4 linked regions of the Homo sapiens genome follow. The protein of the gene in region 2 interacts with the protein of the main gene of each other region in a biochemical or structural test. Each region holds a gene or a part of one and is shown on either strand. Other genes may lie near its edges. The genes, in order: CAPN2, KCTD7, CAPN1 and CAPNS1.

Evidence for each region.
Region 1: of the proteins of KCTD7 (region 2) and CAPN2, one has a biochemical effect on the other in vitro, tested with the Homo sapiens proteins (one study listed by BioGRID).
Region 3: of the proteins of KCTD7 (region 2) and CAPN1, one has a biochemical effect on the other in vitro, tested with the Homo sapiens proteins (one study listed by BioGRID).
Region 4: of the proteins of KCTD7 (region 2) and CAPNS1, one has a biochemical effect on the other in vitro, tested with the Homo sapiens proteins (one study listed by BioGRID).

What each region holds. Positions count from the first base shown.
Region 1 is NC_000001.11:223,771,508-223,776,518, forward strand, and holds the end of CAPN2 (calpain-2 catalytic subunit), read left to right. Parts: intron 1-301; coding exon 302-418; intron 419-673; coding exon 674-732; intron 733-1,203; exon of another isoform or gene 1,204-1,579; intron 1,580-2,760; exon of another isoform or gene 2,761-3,326; coding exon 3,327-3,350; 3' UTR 3,351-4,511; downstream 4,512-5,011. UniProt on the Homo sapiens protein: Calcium-regulated non-lysosomal thiol-protease which catalyzes limited proteolysis of substrates involved in cytoskeletal remodeling and signal transduction. Proteolytically cleaves MYOC at 'Arg-226'.
Region 2 is NC_000007.14:66,631,850-66,638,880, reverse strand, and holds part of KCTD7 (BTB/POZ domain-containing protein KCTD7), read right to left. Parts: intron 5,607-7,031; coding exon 5,437-5,606; intron 629-5,436; coding exon 450-628; intron 26-449; coding exon 1-25. UniProt on the Homo sapiens protein: May be involved in the control of excitability of cortical neurons.
Region 3 is NC_000011.10:65,205,909-65,212,518, reverse strand, and holds the end of CAPN1 (calpain-1 catalytic subunit), read right to left. Parts: intron 6,057-6,610; coding exon 5,845-6,056; intron 5,740-5,844; coding exon 5,700-5,739; intron 4,465-5,699; coding exon 4,399-4,464; intron 4,315-4,398; coding exon 4,257-4,314; intron 3,197-4,256; coding exon 3,132-3,196; intron 2,671-3,131; coding exon 2,602-2,670; intron 2,502-2,601; coding exon 2,423-2,501; intron 2,184-2,422; coding exon 2,067-2,183; intron 1,706-2,066; coding exon 1,647-1,705; intron 1,260-1,646; coding exon 1,233-1,259; 3' UTR 513-1,232; downstream 1-512. UniProt on the Homo sapiens protein: Calcium-regulated non-lysosomal thiol-protease which catalyzes limited proteolysis of substrates involved in cytoskeletal remodeling and signal transduction. Proteolytically cleaves CTBP1 at 'Asn-375', 'Gly-387' and 'His-409'.
Region 4 is NC_000019.10:36,143,064-36,150,094, reverse strand, and holds part of CAPNS1 (calpain small subunit 1), read right to left. Parts: coding exon 6,967-7,031; intron 4,290-6,966; coding exon 4,221-4,289; intron 4,120-4,220; coding exon 4,041-4,119; intron 3,900-4,040; coding exon 3,783-3,899; intron 518-3,782; coding exon 459-517; coding exon of another isoform or gene 283-458; coding exon 256-282; 3' UTR 1-255. UniProt on the Homo sapiens protein: Regulatory subunit of the calcium-regulated non-lysosomal thiol-protease which catalyzes limited proteolysis of substrates involved in cytoskeletal remodeling and signal transduction. Essential for embryonic development.

The sequences.
Region 1 (5,011 bases), on a different chromosome or scaffold from region 2:
AAACAGCAGCAGCATGGTTAACAACATGAAGCAACTGTGACCATGAGAACAGAAACAGGCAAGAAAACACTTATGTGTCAGCAAAGGACACAGGCAGGGTGAAGGTGGACAGTTCAAAAACAAAAGAAACAGCAGAAGGTACTGGCTTTGCAAAATCAAACCAGTCTCACAGAAGAGCAGCCAAGGGACAAAAGCAATTATACCTCATTTAAATCACCACATTAGTTTCATAGCCTGTGAGCGCAGCTAAATGGAACAATCTAATGCTTAGCAATGAGTTTGTTTGTTCATGTAACTTCAGGTTTCAAGATGCCCTGTCAACTCCACCAAGTCATCGTTGCTCGGTTTGCAGATGACCAGCTCATCATCGATTTTGATAATTTTGTTCGGTGTTTGGTTCGGCTGGAAACGCTATTCAGTAAGTGGATATTTGGGGAATGACTCATTTCAGTTCTCTTGGTATTAAAGTGGCCTGCCTTTCACCTCGGTGAAATCATCTAAACTAGAGACATGTCTTCCAGGAGTTGAGAATGAAATTCCCTCTTTACTAATTTGAGGGTGAGGAAGAAAGCATGTATGGTGGTCAGTGAAGTCAGTTGCTGAACTGAAAAGAGGATAATGTGATCTGTTTCAGCTCACTCACTTGTGACACCCTCTTTTTCTCCCTCCACAGAGATATTTAAGCAGCTGGATCCCGAGAATACTGGAACAATAGAGCTCGACCTTATCTCTGTGAGTCAGCAGGCCCCGCCTTGCTTCTAAGGGGATGGGGGAGGCATGGGGCGGAAAGGGCTGTTACTTGAGTGATCTGCTTTTTCAAGTTTTGCTTTAAAGAGCTCTTGGTCTGTCGGGGCCAGGCCTGTAACCGGTTGTAAGATCCCACAATGCACTTTTACTTGCAGTTGTTTTCCAACCACCTATTCTCAAGTCCAAAATGCACGCCTGGCTCCCTCTTCTCATGAGCTTTGACTTGAGTGTAGCTCAAGGTTAAACTAAGGAGTGGCTGCAGGATCATGCTTAGAAAAATGAACTCCTGATTAGCATGCAAGGGAGAACATGTTTATATAAAGAAATCCTTCAGCTGAAATTCAAGTTGGGTTTTGGGAAGATCCATCATTCTTAGAGTGGATCTACTTAAAATACTTTAAGCAAATTAGTTTTCTCTACTCCCTCCCCGTTTAAGATAAAACCAATACTAGTAAATACGTTTGCCATTTATTATTGTTATTGCACTCATGTGTCTGGAACCCTAGCAATACACATCTCTGAAATGATCATCAATCTGAATTAAGTGGGTATGCTAATTTCACAAAAAGCAAAGCGTAAAATGTTCTCGTGTCATCCCAATGACAGGAAGTTCTCTCACTGAAAGAAAGAAGCCAGGTGGGGTATACTTCCATTATCACCTGGCTCCAGTCAGCATTTCCTCTATACTCAGGGAAGGCCACAGAGGGCCGGGCGAAGTGGCTGACACTGGGTGAGAATGGCAGTTGTCAGTCCTGTCCGTGTAACAGAGGAGTGAAGTGGTGAGGAGGGCAGGTCTAAGGCACTGGCAGCTCTTTTCCATGGATTTTGAACTCTGGAGGAAGGCAGCAACTAAATAACTGTCTCATTCTGCTATTATGCATTGTATTAGCAAAGTGAAAATATAGTCTATCTGGTTACAAATAACACTAACTTGCTTAAAACTTTACATATCCTAGGAAATATCTCTACCCCTAGATTGCAATGTAGAGTCAACCCCATCTCTAAAAAAATAAAAAATTAGGCTGGCCGCAGTGGTTCATGCCTGTAATCCCATCACTTTGGGAGGCCAAGGCAGGTGGATCACCTGAGGTCAGGAGCTCAAGACCAGCCTGGCCAACATGGTGAAACCGCGTCTCTACTGAAAATACAAAAATTAGGGCTGGGCGCGGTGGCTCACATCTATAATCCTAGCACTTTGGGAGGCCAAGGCGGGCGAATCACCTGAGGTTGGGAGTTCGAGACCAGCCTGAGTAACATGGAGAAACCCCATCTCTACTAAAAATACAAAATTAGCCAGGCGTGGTGACACATGCCTGTTAATCCCAGCTACTCGGGAGGCTGAAGCGAAAGGATTGCTTGAACCCGGGAGGCGGAGGTTGCGGCGAGCTGAGATTGCACCATTGTACTCCATCCAGCCTGGGCAACAAGAGCAAAACTGCATCTAAAAAAAAAATTAGCTGGGCGTGGTGGCAGGTGCCTGTAAATACGTTACTCTGGAGGCTGAGGCAGGAGAATCACATGAACCTAGGAGGTAGAGGTTGCAGTGAACTGAGATGGTGCCACTGCACTCCAGCCTAGGCAACAAGAGCAAAACCCTGTCTCAGAAAAAAATAAATAAAAAATAAAAAAATGAGCCAGGCATGGTGGTGCGTGCCTGTAGACCCAGCTACCCAGGAGGCTAAGGTGGGAGGAACACCTGAGCCCAGAAGTCAAGGCCGCAGTGAGCCATGATCTCCCCACTACATTCCATCTTGGGTGACAGAGCAAGGCCCTGTCTCAAAAAATTTAAAATGAAATAAATAGTAGAGTCAACACAACTGTGACACGAAACATGCCACATGTTAAGTTCTGGAAATCCTAGCCTGTCATTCTTGCTGGATATCCTATTCTACCCCAGCCACCCACCCCCACTCCAGGGTCCACCTGGCCTGCCTGCTCAGTCCACTCCCTCCGCATCTCCTCCGAGAAGCATCTTCTTACCCACTGGCTTTTCCTGCCACTCCTAAGCCTTACCTTTTGCAGGTTCCTGGAGATCCTCGCTTCTCGTAGTCTTTGCAAGGATGAGCCATGTTCAGAAGCTCTCCGTTCAGTCTGCAGGGATTTCAACCTTGGCTGCAGATTCCATCACATGGGGAGCTTTGCCAAAGTGCTGGTGTCCTGTCTGTATCCCAGACCAGTTGAATCAATCTGATTTAAAGTTTCCGTATCACTACAACTTAGAACCAATGCTGAACACCATTGGTTGCAGGGATATCCACATCCCAAACTAACTTCTGATGTGATACTCTGAGGCAGAGATGTGAAAATGCTAATTTCTGTTGTGTGAATTTCACTTTTCATGTGTGCAATCAACCCTGTAATATGATTCATGGCCACTTAATGCAAATCACACAGACTACTGACCTGTTAAAAGCTAGACTCTAGAAATCAGGTAAGAAAAATATGAGTTAGTGCACTGATATTGTAGCCCTCAATCAGCTTTTCCAGTACAAGTTTTTTGGAACAATCTACAGGTACTTAAATAGCCTTTAATTTTAAAAGTGGTCACTGAGCTGACTTTTTTTTTTCCTTCCTCACAGTGGCTCTGTTTCTCAGTACTTTGAAGTTATAACTAATCTGCCTGAAGACTTCTCATGATGGAAAATCAGCCAAGGACTAAGCTTCCATAGAAATACACTTTGTATCTGGACCTCAAAATTATGGGAACATTTACTTAAACGGATGATCATAGCTGAAAATAATGATACTGTCAATTTGAGATAGCAGAAGTTTCACACATCAAAGTAAAAGATTTGCATATCATTATACTAAATGCAAATGAGTCGCTTAACCCTTGACAAGGTCAAAGAAAGCTTTAAATCTGTAAATAGTATACACTTTTTACTTTTACACACTTTCCTGTTCATAGCAATATTAAATCAGGAAAAAAAAATGCAGGGAGGTATTTAACAGCTGAGCAAAAACATTGAGTCGCTCTCAAAGGACACGAGGCCCTTGGCAGGGAATATTTAAAGCAACTTCAAGTTTAAAATGCAGCTGTTGATTCTACCAAACAACAGTCCAAGATTACCATTTCCCATGAGCCAACTGGGAAACATGGTATATCATGAAGTAATCTTGTCAAGGCATCTGGAGAGTCCAGGAGAGAAGACTCACCTCTGTCGCTTGGGTTAAACAAGAGACAGGTTTTGTAGAATATTGATTGGTAATAGTAAATCGTTCTCCTTACAATCAAGTTCTTGACCCTATTCGGCCTTATACATCTGGTCTTACAAAGACCAAAGGGATCCTGCGCTTGATCAACTGAACCAGTATGCCAAAACCAGGCATCCAATTTGTAAACCAATTATGATAAAGGACAAAATAAGCTGTTTGCCACCTCAAAACTTTATGAACTTCACCACCACTAGTGTCTGTCCATGGAGTTAGAGGGGACATCACTTAGAAGTTCTTATAGAAAGGACACAAGTTTGTTTCCTGGCTTTACCTTGGGAAAATGCTAGCAACATTATAGAAATTTTGCCTTGTTGCCTTATCTTCTTCCAAATGTACTGTTAAATAAAAATAAAGGGTTACCCCATGCAATCACACCATGCCATGTTTTCCTTCCTGGAGGGCAGCCCCACAGGACGGTTTATGAGCACACAATTATAGCTTGTTTCTACTTTAACAAGGTATGCTGCCTCTGTAAATTCATGTATTCAAAGGAAAAGACACCTTGCCTATAATTAAAATGTGGAACTATAAAATTTTTTAAAATCCAATTCAGAAACTTTGATAATCTGACCATAACATAAGGGAAGCTCTAATTTCTACTGCTTGCTGATCTGCTGTTAGGCAGCACAGAGACGTATGTGCCTCTCAGGAAGTTCCCTGCTCGACCTTGGCCAGCTCCTCCTGGGGTAGGTACAAGCAAGGGAGCTGAGAAAACATGCAGATGAAGTCACTGGTCTGGTGCTTGTGGTTCTTGATGAATCATTTCCTCAAGATGACTTGAGATGATAGGCAAATGCCATCCTAATATTTCCTGAACAAGGTGAGACAATGGATTTCCCAAACTCGGCTCAAATGAGTTGAAGTTCTCTTGCTTGCTGAGTGGATTTTGAGGGCAAAGGGGAGGCTGGTGGCCATGAGAGTGCAGGAGTCCCAACCTCCTCGCATCGGTGATTTCTCTGTCCAGCTGCACAGGTGGCAGGAAAGATGTGGGAGATGTTTGGACTGACTCAAGATTGGAGGTGGGCAAGGGAAGGGTAGCTGAAGGATC
Region 2 (7,031 bases):
ATCTCCACAATCCGCTCCAAGTGGTCTATAAGGATGAACACAACACCTATCACTAGGGTGAAGAGGCAGGACAGGGCAGCAGAGATGCACAGAGAAACAGTCCTGAAGATGGCAGGATGCAGGAGGGGAAAGACAGATTTCCCGGGGAAGGGACTCAGGGGGCCAATGAAGGGCACAAACTTAAACAAGGGTCACGGTTCTCCACAGCAAAGGGAAGCCAATGGGACGAGGGCTGTCCTTCTGAAATACAATTTGCTAACTGTCATAGGCCAGGTAGGCCCACCTTAACCTGAATCTCCCCAGCGTGACTGGGAAGGGATGACACTCCATCGCATCTTGAGTAATCTGGATGAATGCTGCCCCCGGTGTTCTGATGGAGACCTAAACACTCACAGATGCCTTGCAGACCTCCTCCCACATACCCACCATCCTGGGCAGCTGACCCTCACCTTTGTAATAGGGCATGAGTCCCAGAAACGCTTGGCGCACCTTCTCGCCCTTCAGTGGCTGCATGTTCTCCAGCTGCTCCAGGAGGGGCCCGATGGCATAGTACTGGGCCTCTTTGTACACAGCTCGAACACGCTCCCTGGGTGGGAGGTCCCCTGAGCGCAGGAAATTCAGCACATCTCTAAGCAGGAAGGAAAGAGGGTCGGTGACAAGGAGCTTATGCTCCTGGGCAGTGCCACACAGTGTGCATTGGACAAAATCTAAAACCAGACTGCCAGCTGTGTTACACTGGGTAAATGAACTTAACTACTCCATGTCTCAGTTTCCCTGTCTGTAAAATTGGAGAAAACAATAAAACCTCATAATGTGTTAGGGAATTAAGTGATTAGAAAATCCCTGGCACAGAGTAGGGCCTCAATAAGTGTTATTAGTTGTTGTTATCAGTAAGCAACTATAATTACTATTATTAGGTATAATATTAGGTATTATTAGGTATATGTAAGTATAATGGAAAGATATGACACCTAGCCCTTTATATATATATAGTTTTAGAATTGAGGTGAAATATTCAATAAATGTACAAATATTAACTGTACAGTTCAGTTGTTTTTTTAAGTATGAATATACCCATCCAACCATCACCTAGATCAAGATGAAACATTTCCATTCCTTAAGGTTCCTCATGCCACTTCCCAGTTAATCCCTACGGAAGCAACCACTCTAACTTCTCCTTCCATCAGTAAAGATGAGTTTTGCCTTTTCTTGAAATATATATATAAACAGAATTATATAGTATGTTCTCTTTCATACCTGGCTTCTTTCCTTTAACATAATGTTTTTGAAATGTATCCACCAAATAAATAATAAAAACAAACCAGTAGTTTGTTTTTTTGTTTTTATTAGTTATTATTCATTATGTAAGTATACCCTTGCATGAATATGGTGTAATTTATTTACCCTGTTGTCTTGTTGATGGACATTTGGGTTGTTTCCAGTTTTTGGCTATTATGAGTAAAGCTGGGATGAACATTCCTATATAAGACCTTTAGGCCAGGCACGGTGGCTCACACGTGTGATCCCAGCACTTTGGGAGGCCGAGGTGGGTGGATCATCTGAGCTCAGGAGTTTAAGACCAGCCTGGCCAAAACGGTGAAACTCCATCTCTACTAAAAATACAAAAATTAGCCAGGTATGGTGGTGGGTGTCTGTAATCCCAGCTACTCTGGAGGCTGAGGCAGGGGAACTGCTTCAACCTGGGAAGTGGAGGTTGCAGTGAGCTAAGATCACGCCACTGCACTCCAGTCTGGGTGACAGTGTGAGACTCCATCACAAAAACAAACAAACAAAAGAAACCTTTAGTGGACACAAGCACAAATTTCTTTTAAGTATTAGCAGTAGAGTCATTCAGTCATAGGGTAAGCACGTGGTTAACAAAGTGGTTGCAGCATTTTACATTCCCAACAGCAATGCAGAAGAGTTCTAGGTGTTCCCCATCCTTGCCACTAGTATTATTCTGTAGCTATGCAGAGCAGGTAAAATGCCTAACTCTAATGTCTGAACAAACTGGTTTCAGGGCTGAATAAAATCACATATTGCATTTTCTTAAAATAAAAATTCAGTCCTTCTAATTCACTTTTCAGATTTTTTTTCTTCTTTTTTAAGAGATAGGATCTTGTTCTGTCACCCAGGCTGGAGGGCAGTGGTGCAATCATAGCTCACTGCAGCCTCTAACTCCTGGGCTCAAGCAGTCCTCTTGCCTCAGCCTCCCGAATAACTGGGACCATAGGTGCAAGCCACCAGCTTTTTAGATTATTTAGTGCTCAGAGTAATCAGATACATCACCCGTACGTGCGGAAGACAGTGAGTAAACCCCAAGATAATGCTGCTACCTCAATAACAGCTTAGTCTATGACCTAATACAACACCAGCTAACACTCGCTAAGTATTACTCCATGCCAGCCACTATTCATGGGTTATCCCATGTAATCCTCTCAATGACATTGGGGGTGTGTGCTATCTTATCTCTATGTCATAAATGAGGCTCAAGTGGGGCCCAGACAGGTTCAGGAACATGCTTGCTCAAGTAGCCACCGCTGCCAGAGGCTCAGATCCAGCCATGGCTGATTCTACACCCACATCTACCATGGTCCAGCTTCAGCAGAAACATTTAGACCAGAGTGCAGCAAGCTGATGACAATGGGGAACGACCCCAGACTGAGGCCCAAGCAGCCTTCACGGTGGACGCTAGGGATACATAAGCTGTATAGTAAGAAATGCACCCTACGAAATGCCCTGAACCGCCTATTTTATCTGAGTCATTCAACAACTTCATCTGCTGCTGATGAATCATAGGTCACAGGAGCTCATCAGCCAAAGTAAGAATGTCGCCATCTCCTGCTTTCTGCCATGCCCTTGCCTGGCGCTGTCACTCTCTAGCTGTGGCCACCTGAGCATGGGCACATCCACCTCAAGTCAAACCCAGAACCCCTCCCCAAAATCCCTTCTAGATCTTCAGCAAACCTTGGTGAGCTCTGAAAAACAAAACCCTGGGGCAAGGCCCAGCTAAGGGTGCTGTGGGAGCTGCTAGCTGGGGCCGGCACTTTCCTTCCCCAAACAGCCCGCAAACAAACATCTTTTTATAGTTCTGCAGAGCGATGTGACACTTTGTTTTCTCAGCATTGGAGGCAGCTGATAGCCCACTGGGGAAACCCAGATGCTTCCAAGCAAGTTATTTGACCAGGGGCTCCTTTCTGAGAATAAAAATGATCTTTCCCACAATGTGGGCAATCCTTCTTGGAGGCCAGCACAGAGATGTAGTGGTTGGAGAGTTTCTGCCTCCTGGGCACTTGGTTCAAGGTCTCTAGTCATCTCCAATGTCAGACTGAAGGAGCTAAGAGTTCCAGCCACGTACTCTGAAAAGGACATGGCTAGGGGTCACACCAAGGCTCTTTATATAATCCTCTTTGACAAGCCTGTGCAGCAGCTATAATTATTTCTCATTTCACAAACATGGAACCCCTGAGACATAAAGTCTTTAAATTGTTTACATGTAAGACTGTCAGAAGTCCTTTCTTGGGAAAGGTTTTGTTTTCTTTTTTAAGACACAGAGTCTCGGCCGGGCCGGACACAAACTACAGGCTGGGCCTGTAATCCCAGCACTTTGGCAGTCTGAGGCAGGAGGATCACTTGAGTCCAGGTGTTCGAGAACATCCTGGCCAACATAGTGAAACCTCATCTCTAAAAAACATCAAAAATTAGCCAGGCGTGGTGGTGTGCACCTCTAGTCCCAGCTACTTGGGAAACTGAGGCAGCAAAATTGCTTGCACCTGGGAGGTCAAGGCTGTAGTGAGCTGTGCTTGCATCACTGCACTCAGCTTGGGCAACAGAGCAAGACGCTGACTCAAAAAAAAAAAAAAAAAAAAGACAGTCTCACTCTGTTGCCCTGGCTGGAGCACAGTGGTAGGATCATGGCTCACTGCAGACTCCAACTCCTGAGCTCAACCAATCCTCCCACCTCGGCCTCACAAGTAGCTGTGACTACAGGCAAGTACCACCACGCCTGGCTGCTATTTTGCTGTTGTTGACATTGTGTTTTTCCACATTTTAGTGTTAAGTGACAAGAACAACAGAGGGTTTTTTTTTTTTTAAAGACTTTCCTTGGCAAAATTAAAGAACAACACTGTATCAGTCTTCCATCTCTTTTTATTCCTTTAAACTACTGAAAGAAGTCTGGTAACCACTGCTACACACCATGCCTCCTTCCCATGGCAACGCTGAGCCCCAAAATCCAGGTCTAAAGGTACTCTCCATGTTGTTTTAGACTATCCCCCTATGTGGGATTACACTTATTCCTCTCCACACAGATGACAACTTCCTGGTCTCATATTGCATAGGACAGCCAGGTGCAGTGGCGCACACCTGTAGTCTCAGCTATTCAGGAGGCTGAAGGGAGAAGACTGCTTGAGCCAGGAGTTTAAGGATGCAGTGAGCTATGATGGCACTGGTGAACAACCACTACATTCCACCCTGGGCAACATAGCAAGACCCTATCTCCAAAAAAACAGCCCCCGAAAAAAAAACAACACCTAAAACTTAAATAAATACTGTAATACCAGCATTTTAGGAGGCCAAGGTGGGAGGACTGCCTAAGGCCAGGAGCTTGAGACCAGTCTGGGCAACACAGCAAGATCCTATCTTTATTTTTATAGATAGATAGATAGATAGATAGATAGATAGATAGAATCACACACATCAAGACCAGTGGAAGCCTCAGTGCATCAGAGCTCATATATATACATATATATATATATATATATATATGTATACACACACCCATATATACATATATATATATGTGTGCATGTATGTGTACATCTGTGTGTGTGGGTGTATAATGAGATAAATAAATAAATAATAAATAAATAAAAATGAAATTTTGTTTTGTTTTTTGAGATGGAATCTCGTGTCGCCCAGGCTGGAGCGCAGAGGCGTGATCTCGGGTCACTGCAACCTCTGCCTCCTGGGTTCAAGCGATTCTTCGACCTCAGCTTCCTGAGTAGCTGGGATTGCAGGTATGAGCCACCACACCCAGCTAATTTTTGTATTTTTAGTAGAGATGGGGTTTCACCATGCTGTAATGAGCTGGTCTGGAACTCCTGGCCTCAAGTGATCTACCTGCCTCAGCCTCCCAAAGTGCTGGGATTACAGGCATGAGCACCGCGCAGAGCTGAAAATAAAAATTGTTTAATTGTCTATGATTGAAGCAATTTCATCCAGCCAGTGTGTTATTTCGAATTTCTCTGGCTGTCTTTGTCTCCTTTGGCAAAAAAAAAAAAAAAAATTGATCTCTTTCAATAAACCCATTTATTAAATTTCATCAATATGCTATCTCCTCTTCTAGGTACTATGGAAGATATCAAGGTCCCATACTCAAGCCTACGCTAATCACCTGCTAGGACTACAAAGTTGATTGTAGAGGGAGAGACATACCCAAAGTGTGTGCCATCTCGGTCGATGAAGTACCGGCCCTCGGAGTCCGTGGGGATGTAGTGCCGCCCACTGAACATGGCTGCCAACATGGTGTCTTCGTAGCACCGCAGTGTGGACAGGCGTGTAGTGAAGTGAGCCCCTCCGATGTTAAGGGGAACAACCTCAGGAAACTGGAAAGAAATCACCAGGGCTCTCAGGCAGGCAACGGGGAATGAGAGCTGGGGCTGCTCCATCTTCAATCCCTGGGGTCTGATTGGTGCCACACCATTCATTCAGTCACTCAAGCCCACGGGTCCATCTGAACACTTTCTTCTCTCTCCTCCCTCTGCCCCACCCTCATCATCTGCCAAGTCCTACCCATTCTAACCCTCATAGCTCTTTTTTTTTTGAGATGGAGTTTCACTCATCTCCCAGGCTGGAGTGCAGTGGCGTGATGTTGGCTCACTGCAAGCTCCGCCTCCCGGGTTCACGCCATTCTCCTGCCTCAGCCTCCCGGAGTAGCTGGGACTACAGGCGCCCTCCACCACACCCGGCTAATTTTTTGTATATATATATATATTTTTTTAGTAGAGATGGGGTTTCACTGCGTTAGCCAGGATGGTCTCGATCTCCTGACCTCATGATCCACCTGCCTCGGCCTCCCAAAGTGCTGGGATTACAGGCATGAGCCACTGTGCCTGGCCCCCTGATAGCTTTTAAATCAGGTCTCTCCACCTCAACTCCATTATCGCTGCTCTAGAGCTCAAGCCTTCAGTGTCCTTTCACTTCCTGAATTTACTATCTTAGTGCTCTTGCTCACATTGTCTTCTTTGCCCAAAATGCTCTTACCAGTCTCCTTCTTCTGTCTATATGGCAAGTTAAATGGACCCATACAGTGTTATAGGTTGTTCACTGCATAAAAGCACCTGGATGAGAGTCATCTGCTATGTGCCCTTTTTCTTTTTTTTTTTTTTTTTGAGACGGAGTCCCAGCCTGTGTCACCCAGGCTGGAGTTCAGTGGCGCGATCTCGGCTCACTGCAACCTCCGCCTCTCGGGTTCACACCATTCTCCTGCCTCAGCCTCCCGAGTAGCTGGGACTACAGGTGCCTGCCACCACGACTGGCTAATTTTTTGTATTTTTAGTAGAGATAGGGTTTCACCGTGTTAGCCAGGATTGTCTCGATCTCCTGACCTCATGATCCGCCCGCCTTGGCCTCCCCAAGTGCTGGGATTACCGGCGTGAGCCACCACGCCCGGCCTGCTATGTGCCCTTTTTCTAATTCACACCAACACACCATACAGTTTAGTGGCATCTACTCATTCTAGAAATTTCTATTCAAGTTCCCCTCATCTGTGAGCATTTCTGTCTACTGTCCCTCACCTGCCCCTAGGACAGAGTTAATGACACATTCTTCGACTGTGCCTTCACCGTGTGTCATATTCTCCTCTATAATAGCACCTAGCACGATACATCGCCAATTATTTCCCTCTGTCAATTCACTCCACTAGACCCCAAGCTTCCCAAAGACAGGGAAAGCATCTTGGTCACCAATCATGGGCTGCCCACAGCAGAGCTCAGTAGTTGTGTGTTGAATACTTCCAGGCATCTACTCCT
Region 3 (6,610 bases), on a different chromosome or scaffold from region 2:
TTCCCCCAAACCACTCTTATCTCTGGTAAGAAAATCCCAGATCCCAGCAGGCCCTGGAGCGGCTTATGTAAGTGCAGGTGTCTGGGTCACAGGGGCTCCCCACAGAGGGACCTGAAGGCGGCTCTGTGCTCGGGGGAGCTCTCTGGGGGGCCGGGTGTGTGCTAAGTAGAGGTTTGAATTTCAGCCAGAGCCTCACCTCAACGGGCCGAAGTGTGCAAGAAAGGTAGGGGTCAGGCCTCCTGGGCGGCGGGGAGGGCATGTAGGATCAGCAGAGCCATGTGGGACCTCAGCTGTGTGGCCCTGTCCCTGCAGCTAGGGCCCCTCCTTCCCAACCTCCCAGGGCCAGGGGTGGTCTTGCCCAGATACCCAGTACTCCAGTAGGGGTTCAAGCTTCAAGGTCAAGGGGAAGGAGATGGAGGGGTTGGAGGGGAGGGGTGAGCTGAGGCCACGAGCTGCCCCCATGGGCCGGGGCCTGCAGGTGCCCTCCAGGCAGTAGGCTGGGGAGAAACACATCACAGACAGATGTGGGGCCTTTTATTATTTGGGGTTCCTCTATATGGAACACGGGACCTCCCCACCCCAAGCCTAGTGCCTCTGGCACCCCCATAACCAGTACACAAGTCCCTGAAGAGTCCCCTTTAAAATCACTAATATAAAAAAGGAGCGAAGGAGGGAAGGCCGACCGCCCACAGGCTGGGCAGCTCCTGGTCGGCAGCAGGGCCAGGGAAGGACAGAGGGGGCGTTGGCTTCGGCGCAGGAAGGCACAGGCGTTCCCAGCCCCGGGGCCTCCCCGAGCCGGGAGGCGGCTCCACACGCCTGGACTGCAGACTGTGTCGAGCTAGTGGTTATAGTTTATAGTCTGCAGGCAAGGCCAGGCCGGTGGTGCTGAGTGGGTGGCCTCTGAAGTGGGGAGAGGGGACACATCAGGATGCTGGGGAAACCCGGGGCTGTCCCGAGGCAGGAACAAGCGAAAGCTGCCTTCCTGGCTTGGCAATGGGTGGGGCCCAGGGAGTCCATCCCGAGCCCATGGCTGGCACAGGCAGGGGCCACACAGTTCTGCCCGGAGCAGATGAACGATGGTGGCTGGGAGGAGAGGGGACAGGAGGACGAGGCTGCCTCTCTGCTCCAAGGAAGGCACTTGCAGCTGGGGTGGCCTGGTGTGGTGTGGTAGGAGGCGAGGCTTGGCAGACGAGGAGGGAGGGGAGCACGGCAAGGGGGACCGAGTCCCTGCCTCATGCAAACATGGTCAGCTGCAACCACTGCGGGAGAACAGGCAGGTCAGCTGGGGCCGCAGAAATGGCTCCCTGGCTTCTTCCCCACCCAAACCCCAGGTCCAGCCCCCAACTCCACGTCTCAGGAGCCACCTCAGGAACCTCATGGAGGGGTTACTTTCTTACCTCCTCCACCCCTGGGAAACCAGAGTGCTGCTCCCATAGGGGCCTCCAAGGGCCTGGACCTCCCCTCCTGCTCCTTTCCCAGAATCCAGACACCCCCACCCCAGCCTTTCAGGATTCAGGTGGCCCGGGCTTCAGGGTTGGCTCTGAGGCCCAGGCTCATTTCCAGGAAAGGACAGGGAACACTGGCCAGATAAGAAAATTCGATCGCCTGGAACTCTTCCCCAACCATGGGCCCAGGGAGGTTCCCACCTTAAACAAGTCAAAGGTCACAACTCCATCCAGATCTGTGTCCAGAGTTTTGAAAAATCCTGTGTGTTCAAGAAAAGGTGATACAGGGCTGAAAACTCAGTGGGATATTCACGCAGGGCCAGGCCTGGCCCCCTTCCTGCCTGGTCCCTCTCTACCTCCCCACAGTACCGCAAGCTGACACCCCTTGAAGCTGGGAAGCTTCACCCCTTCCTGCTGCCTGAGAAGCCACTGTCAACTCCCTCCCTCCCCGACTCTCCTGGCACTCAGCCAGGGCCCCCCAAACCCAGACCCAGGCCTCTCTGGCACACACCCACAGCACTGGCCTGTATCTGCTAATTCACCCATCTGTCATTCCCCCCAGCTCCTGGGGGACGCGTTTGGGACGGAGCTGGAGGGTGGGAGGCAGTTGGGGACACTCACGGAACATGGTCTCTAGCCGCACCAGGCAGCAAACGAAATTGTCAAAGTCGACCGCCAGGTCGGGCTCCGAGTAGCGGGTGATGATGAGCTCGTACAGCTTCTTGTTGAGCTTGAAGCCTGGTCCAGGAGAGTGAGTGAAGGTCAGTGAGGCGCAGCCCCTGCCCAACAGGATGGGGGAGGGGTTGGGTCCCCAGGAGGGGGCTGGGGCTAGGCAGGGTGCTAGTAACCGTGGGGAAAAGGACAAGATGGCTGTTACCATGTCACCACTAGCACCCCAGGGACAAGGGCCTGGGGCATAGGAGCAGTGGGGCTACCTGTCCTGGGCCCCACAGGTGCCGTCAGCCTTGGAGTCTCACCTGCCGACTCAATGGCCATCCGCATCTCGTAGGCACTCATGCTGCCCGACTTGTCCAGGTCAAACTTCCGGAAGATGGACTGAGGTGGCGGCAGAGGGTGAGGGCCAGGCTGAGTCACCCGGCCCTTCCCACCTGCCCGGCCCGCACCTGCATGACTGAGGTGAGTGGGGACAACCTACCAGGTAATTCCGGATGCGGTTCCACAGGATGTTGAACTCCACCAGGCCCAGCTTCCCATTGCCATCACGCTGGGTGGCCGTTAAGAAGGAAATTCCATCACTTAGACCAGTCATGGGAGAGTGGGCAACTGTGCAGAAGGGGAGATGGCCGCCGAGCCGGCAAGTCGACTTGGGGCTGGGTGAGGAGAAGCAGCAAAAGCCATGTACAGTCAGCCCACAGCCGGGCTTGCCTTATTCTCTGAGCTGGGCTGCAGTGGAGTGGGCTGGGGAGGGGTCAGAAATAGCACCAGCCTCAGGGTCAATGGGGACCCAGGTCTTGCTCCACCTTTCACTTGACACAGGTCTGTGCCTCAGTTTCTCCCTCCCAACCAACAGGAAGACGTCCAGGGAGACATCTGAGCATGGGGCACTGTGTGTCCACACTCCGCATGGCTCTGTCCTGTTCTCTGTGCTGTCCTGGGACAGTTCTCCCAGCACCGATACCTCCACCCAAAACCCCACTCAGGAGACAAAAGCAAACGGAAGGATACATCCATGAGGTTCACCATGCTGCGGCACGACTCTAGGCTGAAGCCCTTGGTCCGCAGGTCTTTGTCTGCAAGAAAAACCAATTCCAACATCTCCACCTAGTGAGCTTCCTGCACCTGCCCCTGCTGGGAGCACTGGGTGGGGCAGAGTCAAGGACGCACAAATCCTGACGAGTGGGTGCAATATCTGGCAGAGGAAGTGGGCAGGATTGTTTGTATCATCAGGAAGTACAAGTAAAGTATTTTAGCAATCAAGCCAAAGTCCCAACAGCCACAATTAGTCCAAAGTAAAAAGAAATGAGTGTGAAACAGAAGAGCGAGAAATTGGGTAGAAAGATGGGGCAGGGCAGGGCTTGCTGTAGGCTAGGAGGGTAAGCAGTGCTTCACTAGCAGAGAAGAGGAGGAGAAAAGCTCTGCTTAAGGAAACCGTGTGGATGGAGGTCAGTGGCAGCAAAGGGGAGGGGAGGGGATGAGAGGCCAGCAGTTGTCTGCCCTGGGGAGTGAAGCCAGTCACGTGGTGTTCCCCAAGCCACTCAGCCTGGCCCAGGAGGCTCTGGGAGGAAAGGTAGACTTTTCTTTGGCACTAAGGTGCTGCTCCTGCTTTTTTTTTTGAGACAGGGTCTTGCTCTGTTGCCCAGGCTGGAGTGCACTGATGTGATCACAGCTCACTGCAGCCTTAACCTCCCTGGTCTCAAGCCATCCTCCCAACTCAGCCTCCTGAGTAGCTGGGACTATAGGTGCATGCCACCACGCCCAGCTAATTTTTGTACTTTTTTGCAGAGACAGGGTCTCTCCATATTGTCCAGGCTGGTGTTGAACTCCTGGGCTGAAGCGACTCCTGCCTCGGCCTCCCAGAGTGTTGGGACTACAGGTGTGAGCCACTGTGCCTGGCCAGGCTGCGCTGCTAATCCCACAAAGGCACAGCACCCGAGCACAGGGATTATCAGGATGGCAGGTCAGGAGGAGGAGTATGGGATGGAAATGGCAGGGAACTGGGCTCAGAAAAACTGGAGGATTCCCCGACTCATGCAGACCAAGGGATGAGGTTCAGCTCAATGTGTGAGCAGGAGCCTGGATTCTGATGTGGAAGAAATGGTGGGGTGGTGGGACAGCCCCGCGGGGACTCACGTTTGCTGATGATCCTATTGAGGATTGTCCGCAACTCCTTCACGCTGATCTCCATGTCCTGGGGAGAGAGAGGAGGTGGCACCTGCCCCAGGAGAGGGCTGCCCCTCACAGGCCCCTCCCAACCTGCCATGCCCCAACCTACCTCCCCTGCCAGCTGCCTGAAGAGGGCCTTGAAGTTCTCGTCAATCTCCTCTTCTGAGAGCACTTGCTGGACCGAGAAGGGGAGAAAGCAGGTAAGAGAGGCCCCGGCCCTGCCCGTGTGGAGGCAGCTGGAGGGAGGGCTGAGGTCACATATCTGCTACAAGTCACTTCGCTTCTCTGAGCCTCACTTTTCTTTTCTTTTCTTTTTGAGATGGAGTTTCACTCTGTCACCCAGGCTGGAGTACAGTGGCGTGATCTCAGCTCACTGCAACCTCCGCCTCCCGGGCTCAAGCCATTCTCCCTGCCTCAGCCTCCTGAGTAGCTGGGATTAAAGGTGCCCACCACCATGCCCGGCTAATTTTTGTATTTTTAGTAGAGACGGGGTTTTGCCATGTTGGCCAGGCTGGTCTCAAACTCCCGACCTCAGGTTATCCGCCCGCCTCAACCTCCCAAAGTGCTAGGATTACAGGCGTGAGCCACTGAGCCCGGCTTGAGTCTCACTTTTCTAATCTGAAAAGGGAATCTCGTTCCTGCCCTGCCCTGCCCCGCCCCATATCCAGCACTCATGTGACCTAAATGAAGGGGATGCTGTTCAGCTCAGTGAGTAAAAGGCAAGAGTTTGGGCCAGGTGCGGTGGCTCACACCTGTAATCCTAGCACTTTGTGAGGCCGAGGTGGGTGGATCACTTGAAGTCAGGAGTTTGAAACCAGCCTGACCAAAATGGCAAAACCCCGTCTCTACTAAAAATACAAAAATTAGCCAGGTGTGGTAACGTGCGCCTGTAATCCCAGCTACTCAGGAGGCTGAGGCAGGAGAATCACCTGAACCCAGGAGACGGAGGTTGCAGTGAGCCGAGATCACGCCATTGCACTCCAGCCTGGGTGACAGAGTGAGACTCTCTCAAAAAAAAAAAAAAAAAAAAGGCAAGAGTTTGGATCCCTACTGTATGGCCTCAGGCAAGTTCCCTAACCTCTGTGAACCTGAATTTCCCATTCAGAGGAGGTATGGTAACAAGACCCGGACAGGGTTGATGTGGGGAGGAAATGAGGTAACACAGGTGAAGTGCTCAGCACAAACCCGCCACCGGGTGAGAGCTCAGGGCCTGTGCCATTAGTATCACAGGTCCTCTGCAAACTGTAAAGTGCTGGGCGGATGAGGGATTAGCACTACTCCTATGGCTTCCACCAGGAGGGGATCTTCCCTGTTAGCAGGAACTCAGGGGACAGGACACCTGGGTCCCCATCACACACCCAGGGGTGAGGAAGAGAGGAGGACGGGGCCTGGTGGGGTGGGACCACGCACCTCATCGGGGAGATTGGCCTGGATCTGGTCATCCAGCTCCCTGCAGAGAGTGGGGAGGAAAGGAGCCAGTCAGAGGGGGACAGCAGAGGGCCTGAGAGGGGAGGCTGGGAGAGGGGAGAGTGGCAGGGGCCAGTCCATGACTCACACAGTCCCAGCACTCTTCTCTGAGAAGAAGCGCAGCACGAAGTCGCCCTCCTTGTTGGGCTCGAAGGTGGAGGGCACCACCACATACTCCCCGGGTGGCAGGCGGAAGCGGGTGCTGACCTCTCGCAGGTTGATGAACTGCTCTGAGCGCGCCCGAGACGCATTGGCCAGGAAGAAGTCACGCTTCAAGTGTACGGCCGGCTGGCCCACCAGCTGGTGGGAGGGAGGAGGGAGCAGGGCTGCAGCTGCCCACTCAGCCCACCCTCAGGGGCCACCCCCAGACCCAGACTCCAGGCTCCTTGTCCTGGCCAAGGGGCTGGAGAGCTGGGGCATGGCTCACTCACAGCCTGTGTGACCCTAACAAGACATTTTGCCTCAGTTTCCTCATCTGTAAAATGTAACAACCCTACTCACTGCAGAGGGTAGAGGAGAGGAGCACCGGATTGCAGATTAGGCATGTGTTTCAATAACACTGTCATTATTATCACTGGGAGCTTTCCCCAGGTCAGGTACTGCAGGGTACTCGGCACCTCATTTGCTGTTCTGCTGTTACACCCATTTTACAGACACAAACACAGGCTCGGAGCTTAAGCAACTGCTCAAGGGTACAGAACTCTCAGCCTGTCTAATGCCCTGCTCCTGACATTGCTGGACCGCCCTAGTTGGCACTTACTTGGTGTAGATGGCAAGGCAGGAAAAGCCTCATGTGTACATGTCAGACAGGGGCTCTGAGGACCAGGGCTCAAATCCAGCTCCCTCACTGACTA
Region 4 (7,031 bases), on a different chromosome or scaffold from region 2:
TGCAGGGCCTGGTGGGAATGGGGAGACCCGTGGACAGAGCTTGTTAGAGTGTCCTAGAGCCAGGGGGAACTCCAGGCAGGGCAAATTGGGCCCTGGATGTTGAGAAGCTGGGTAACAAGTACTGAGAGAACAAAAGCTTGTGGGTCAGCAGGCCCCACAAAGATGTGACTGCAGACAGGATCGGCCCTGGGAGAGACCGAGGCTCCAGGTGACTCCTATAGCAAGGCAGTGAGGGGGCGGGTCTGGGGCTCCAGTTCAGGAATACATAGTCAGCTGCAGCCACTGGGGAGAGGAGGGTGGAGAGTGAGGACAGGGAACCCCAAGAGCACCAGCCCCTTTGCCCTCACCCAGGGACGGCTGGCAAAATAGGAGGAAGGGGACTGCAGCTCAGAGCTGGTATGAAGGGCTGAGGGGTGGGGTCCTCCCAGGCACCCATACCCCAATATGGGGGTCCTTACCTCCTGGATGTTCACCTGGATTTGTCCAGTGCCATCTTTGTCAAGAGATTTGAAGGCACCTGGAGGAGGAGATGCAGAGGTTTGGCGGCAGGGAAGGAAGGAGACTGGTTTTTGGCATAATAACATTACACAAATACATGGGATGACAATCATAGCAGCTGGCACTTCACTGAGTATTTACTGTGTGCCAAGCATGGGGTAAAGTGCTTTCCAGGTATTGGCTGATTTAATCCAACTCTGTGAGATAAGTGTCATTTTAAAATGAGGCACAGGCTGGGCGTGGTGGCTCACACCTATAATCCCAACACTTTGGAAGGCCAAGATGGGAGGATCACTTGAGCCGCCCAGGAGTTCGAGACCAACCTGGGCAACAGAGACCTCATCTCTGCTTTTTAAAAAAACTAAAAATTAAAAACAGGAAAAAAAGAAATGAGGCAGGAAGGGAGGGGCCATGCCCCAGGTCACATAGCAAGAAAGTGAAGAAATCAGGATTGGAATCCAATCTGTTACCCTCCTCAATAATGGCCTCTGTGTACTGATATCACCTCTGCCCAGCCCCAGCCTCCTACTGACATCTATGCTCCATCCTCTCCAGTTCTAAGCCTAACAGGCTACTAGAGGGAGGCTCTGCACACTCTACTTCCTGCCCCTAGAGTCTTACAGGTAGGTCCCCACGCCTGCCCTGAAACTTGACTCCATGTTCCCCACCCACAGGGAATCTAGACATGATGACTACACTATCTCCGCTCAGTTACCACCACCCTCAGGTGTCCATACCCACAGCGTCCTGCACACCCTGGCTGCCTTTCTTTCTTTTTTTTTTTGAGACAGAGTCCCACTCTGTTGCCCAGGCTGGAGTGCAGTGGCACGATCTTGGCTCACTGCAACCTTTGCCTCCCAGGTTCAAGTGATTCTCCTGCCTCAGCCTCCTGAGTAGCTGGGACTACAGGCGTGCACCACCACGCCTGGCTAATTTTTTTGTATTTTTAGTAGAGACGGGGTTTCACTATGTTGGCCAGGCTGGTCTCAAACTCCTGACATCAGGTGATCCGCCCACCTCGGCCTCCCAAAGTGCTGGGATTACAGGAGTGAGCCACCATGCCCAGCCCTTTTTTTTTTTTTTTTAGACGGTGTCTCTGTGGCCCAGGCTGGAGTCCAGTGGCAAGATCATAGCTCACTGCAGCCTCACCCTCCCGGGCTCAAGTGATTCTCCTACCTCAGCCTCCCGAGCAACTGAGACCACAGGCATGTGCCACCATGCCCGGCTATGTCTATATACATATATTTTTTTTTTTTTGTAGAGATGGAGTCCTACTACATTGCCCAGGCTGGTCTCAAACTCCTGGACTCAAATGATCCTCCCGACTATCAGCCTTCTTGCTGGTAGATCCAGTGGCTATTTCCTGGCCCCTCTTATGTGACTTGTGGCATCAACCTTGTCTGTCCACTCCCTTCACCTCCCTGCTATCTCACATACCTGCTTCTTTTCCTCTGTTACTTTTCATGCATTGTGGGCTCTCTGGAGGCCAAGGGATCTTTTTTTCTTTTTTTTTTTTTGAGATGGAATCTCGCTCTTGTCACCCAGGTTGGAGGCTGGAGTGCAATGGCATGACCTCTGCTCACTGCAACCTCCGCTTCCTGGGTTCAAGCAATTCTCCCTCCCTAAACCTCCTGAGTAGCTGGGACTACAGACACGCCCCCACGCCTGGCTAACTTTTGTATCGTTAGTAGATGCGGGGTTTCGCCATGTTGGCCAGGCTGGTCTTGAACTCCTGACCTCAGGTTTTACGCCCACCTCAGCCTCCCAGAGTGCTGGGATTACAGGCATAAGCCACTGCACCCGGCCTGGAGGCCAAGGGATTTTTTTTTTTTAAGACGGAGTCTCGATCTGTCACCCAGGCTGGAGTGCAGTGGCAGATCTCAGCTCACTGCAAGCTCCGCCTCCTGGGTTCATGCCATTCTCCCGCCTCAGCCTCCCAAGTAGCTGGGACTACAGGCGCCCGCCACCACACCTGGCTAATTTTTTGTATTTTTAGTAGAGATGGGGTTTCACTGTGTTAGCCAGGATGGTCTCGAACTCCTGACCTCGTGATCCGCCCTCCTCGGCCTCCCAAAGTGCTGGGATTACAGGCGTGAGCCACCGTGCCCAGCCGAGGCCAAGGGATCTTTCTAAAGCCAAACCTGACCCTGTCCTCCCTCTGCCTAGAACCTGCCATGGCTCCCCAATGTCTCTGGTAGAGTTTGAGCACCCCCAAACTTGGCACCCACAATCCTGCATGACCTAATCATGCTCACTGCTCCTACCTTCTCTTACTTAGCTCAGATCTCAGATAGATCCAAGTTCAAATTCTGGCTTTACAACTTCCTAGCTGGGTGACTATGAGCATGAAAATTTGCCTCCTTGAATCCTAAGTTCCTCCTTCACAAAATAAGGACAGTAATCCCCACTTCCCAGCCATGTCTTCAGCATTCAGTACACTAACACTCAGAAGGCCACATGCAATGGCTCATGCCTGTAACACCAAAGCTTTGGGAGGCTGAGGTAGGAGGATTGCTGGAGCCCAGGAGTTCAAGACCAGCCTGGGCAACATAGCAAGACCCTGTCTCTACAAAAAATTTTAAAAATTAGCCAGGCATGGCGGTGTGTGCCTGTACTCCCAGGTATTCGGTAAGCTGAGGCAGGAGGACTGCTGGAGCCTAGGAGTTGAGGCTGCAGTCAGCCATGATCATGCCACTGCACTCCAGCCTGGGCAACAAGAGCAGCAGACTCTGTCTCAAAAAAATAGAAAGAAAGAAATCTAACAAAAAGCATCAGAAGCCCCATCTTCTTTCCCTTCTAGGCCTTTGCACAGGCTGTTCCCTCAGCCTGCAACAGTATTCCCTACCTTCTCACTAAGTTCTCTCCTCATCCCCTCAGGTCTCAATGTTCCCTCTCCAGTGAGCCCTCCCTGACCCCTTGGGCTGCATCAGGTTCCTCCTGGATTGGATTTGCCCTCTAGGCTTCCCCAAGCACAATCTGAGCACGCTCTGCTCACTCTTCCCCTCACCAGAGCCCTAGACCCTCGGCCTGTGCTGCCCCCATCACAACCCATCACTCTGCCCTGAGCTTCCCCTCTCCCAGCCATCACCAGTCTGAACTGTCACTGTCTGGGGACTTGTGTCTCCTCCACCAGACTGTGAGCTCCATGAGGGCAGAAACTGGAACTGATTCAATCACCACTGTGCCCCTAGCATCGCCCACCTCAAAGTCAGGCTTAGAGGAGACCTTGGTCCATAGAGGTCATAGGAATCCCCACCCAGGAAGACAGCTGGGTTGTCACTCACGGAACATGGCGTCCAGCCTGACCAAGCAGCTGATGAAGTTGTCAAAATCCATGTTCCCACTTTCATCTGAGTAGCGTCGGATGATCATGTTATAGAGATGCTCATTCAGGTGGAACCCTAAGATGGATGTAGTCCTTCAGGTGCGGGGGCCACATGGCCCAACCCACTCCCATGCCCAGGAGTCAGGCCCAGACCAGCTGAGTAGAGGTTTTCTCACCCATCCCACTCCCAGCCCCAGCATGTCCCTGCCAGCCATACCTGCTGCCTCAAAGGCACCTGGGAGTTCACTACTGCAAATGGTCCCTGATCGGTCAGTGTCGAACTGTTTGTATATGGCCTGTGAGGACAGAGACATTGGGTCCAAGTGAGCATTGTGGGGCATAGTGTCTCCATGGCTTGGGGGTCTGGGTGCCAGGGATTTCAGAGGTTTCTACACACCTGCCACCTTTTGATGTTGTTCCACAAGTACTTGAATTCCTCAAAGCCCAGCTTGCCTGTGGTGTCGCTCTGGTGGGAGGGTGTTAAGAAGAGTGACAGCTACACCCAGATGCATGCATCACATGCACTGTGGACACGATGGTGATACAGCAAGCAGGGCAGCCAGGGCTGAAACTCCAGCTCCCGCTTGGTCCTAGTCATATCACCTGGTGTGCGGTTTTATTTTTCATTTTATCCATACATATTGTCACTTACATTTCTAAATAGGGATTCTCTTTAAACATAACCATGAGGAATTATATTCAACTACTCTAAAGTACAAATTCCTTGCCTGAAGAGTTGTTAATTGCTCATTCAGAAAATTCTTAATAGGCCACGCACGGTGGCTCCCGCCTGCAATCCAGCACTTTGGGAGGCCGAAGCAGGCGGTTCACTTGAGGTCAGGAGTTCGAGACCAGCCTGGCCAACATGATGAAATCCCGTCTCTACTAAAAATACAAAAATTGGCCAGCTGTAGTAGCGCACACCTGTAATCCCAGCTATTCAGGAGGCTGAGGGAGGAGAACTGCTTGAACCTAGGAGGTGGAGTTAGCAGTGAGCCAAGATGGCACCACCGCACTTCAGCCTGGGAAACAGAGTGAGACTCTGTCTCAAAAAAAAAAAAAAAAAAAGAGAAAGAAAAGAAAATTCTTGACAGTAACTCAATTTCATAAAAATGTTAGGATATGTGAAAAACAAGTGTGTGACCAGGCATGGTGGTTCATGCCTGTAATCCCAGCACTTTGGGAAGCCAAGGCAGGTGGATCGCTTGAACTCAGGATCCACCTGATGTCCACTCAGGAACATCACTTTCTCACTAAATCCTTGGGACACCAGTTCTACCAGGACTATTTCCAGAGAAGAAAACATTCAAAGCTGAAAACTCTACCCAAGATCATAGTTAAGAGCTAATGTGTACAGACCACATACTATGCGCTATACACTGTGCTAAACCTTTTGGATGTAGTTCCGATTCGGTATCACCATTATCACTCACCCATTTTACAGAGAGAGAAACTGAGGCACAGAGCGGTTCAATAACCTGGTTAAGAGGTAGAGTTGGGATTGCTTTGCTCTATGCAATATGTCTGTGATTACATGACATGTATATTATGTATGTGTCTGTTTGCCCTATGTGTTAAATGTGCATGAGGCCAGGCGCAGTGTCTCAAGCTTGTAATCCCAACACTTTGGGAGGCCAAGGCGGAAGGATTGCTTAAGGTCTGGAGTTTGAGACTTGCCAGGTCAATATAGTGAAAGCTTTTCTCTATAAAATATTTTTTAAAACAAAAATAAATAAAAATATGCATGTATCCAAGATCAGCTAATGGCTGGCCCATGTACAGATAACACGTGTGTCCCTGTGCACACTGCCTCATACACCTTCACGTATGTGGGTGTGCTCTTAGGTGTGTGTGTGTGTATATGCGCATGTGGCTGTTATAAACGTGGGTTCTCAAGCCCAAAAGACCTGAGTCCACAGACTGGAGTGCAGTGACGAAACCTCTGCTCACTGCAACCTCCGCCTCCCGGGTTCAAGCAATTCTCCTGCTTGAGTAGCTGGGACTCCCGAGTAGCTGGGACTACAGGCGTGCACCACCACGCCCAGCTAATTTTTGTTATTGTTATTTTTCTTTTTTTTTCTTTTTTTTTTTTTTTGAGACGGAGTCTCTCTCTGTCGCCTAGGCTGGAGTGCAGTGGCGCGATCTCGGCTCACTGCAAAGCTCCGCCTCCCAGGTTCACGCCATTCTCCTGCCTCAGCCTCCCGAGTAGCTGGGACTACAGGCGCTCACCACTGCACCCGGCTAATTTTTTTGTATTTTTAGTAGAGACAGGGTTTCACCGTGTTAGCCAGGATGGTCTCGATCTCCTGACCTCGTGATCCGCCCGCCTCGGCCTCCCAAAGTGCTGGGATTACAGGCGTGAGCCACGGCGCCCGGCCTATTTTTATTTTTATTTTTATTTTATTTTTTGAGACAGAGTCTGGCTCTGTCGCCCAGGCTGGAGTGCAGTGGCGCGATCTCGGCTCACTGCAAGCTCCTCCTCTCGGGTTCACGCCATTCTCCTGCTTCAGCCTCCCGAATAGCTGGGACTACAGGCGCCCGCCACTACGCCCGGCTAATTTTTTTTTTTTTTTTGGTAGAGACAGGGTTTCACTGTGTTAGCCAGGATGGTCTCAATCTCCTGATCTCGTGATCCGCCCGCCTCGGCCTCCCAAAGTGCTGGGATTACAGGTGTGAGCCACCGTGCCTGGCCAATTTTTGTATTTTTAATAGAGATGGGGTTTCACCATGTTGGCCAGGCTGGTCTCAAACTCCTGACCTCAGGTGATCTGCCCACCTTAGCCTCCCAAAGTGTTGGGATTACAGGCATGAGCCACCATGCCTGACCTTTATCTATAACTTGAGACAAATGACTGCTTCTTTCAGGAAACTGAGCCTCAGTTTCCTCTTCTGTAAAATGGAATATAATAATTGTGCCTGTCCAACAGGGTGGTTATGACGGTTCGGTCACTTTATATAATTAAAGTGCCAGCTGTGACAGCTGGCATTGTTATGATTTACCGCCACATGTCTGCAGGTGACTGTGTTCTGATGAATGCATTTCCACATCTGTGGATATGAAAGCTACATGTTGGCTTCCCAAACATACTCTCAAAAAACTCTCTGTCCACCCAGGGCCTCTCCCACACTGCCCCCAAGGATACATCCATCACGGCCACCATGCTGCGACATGTGTCAATGCCAAAACCATCAGTCTTCAGATCAGGGT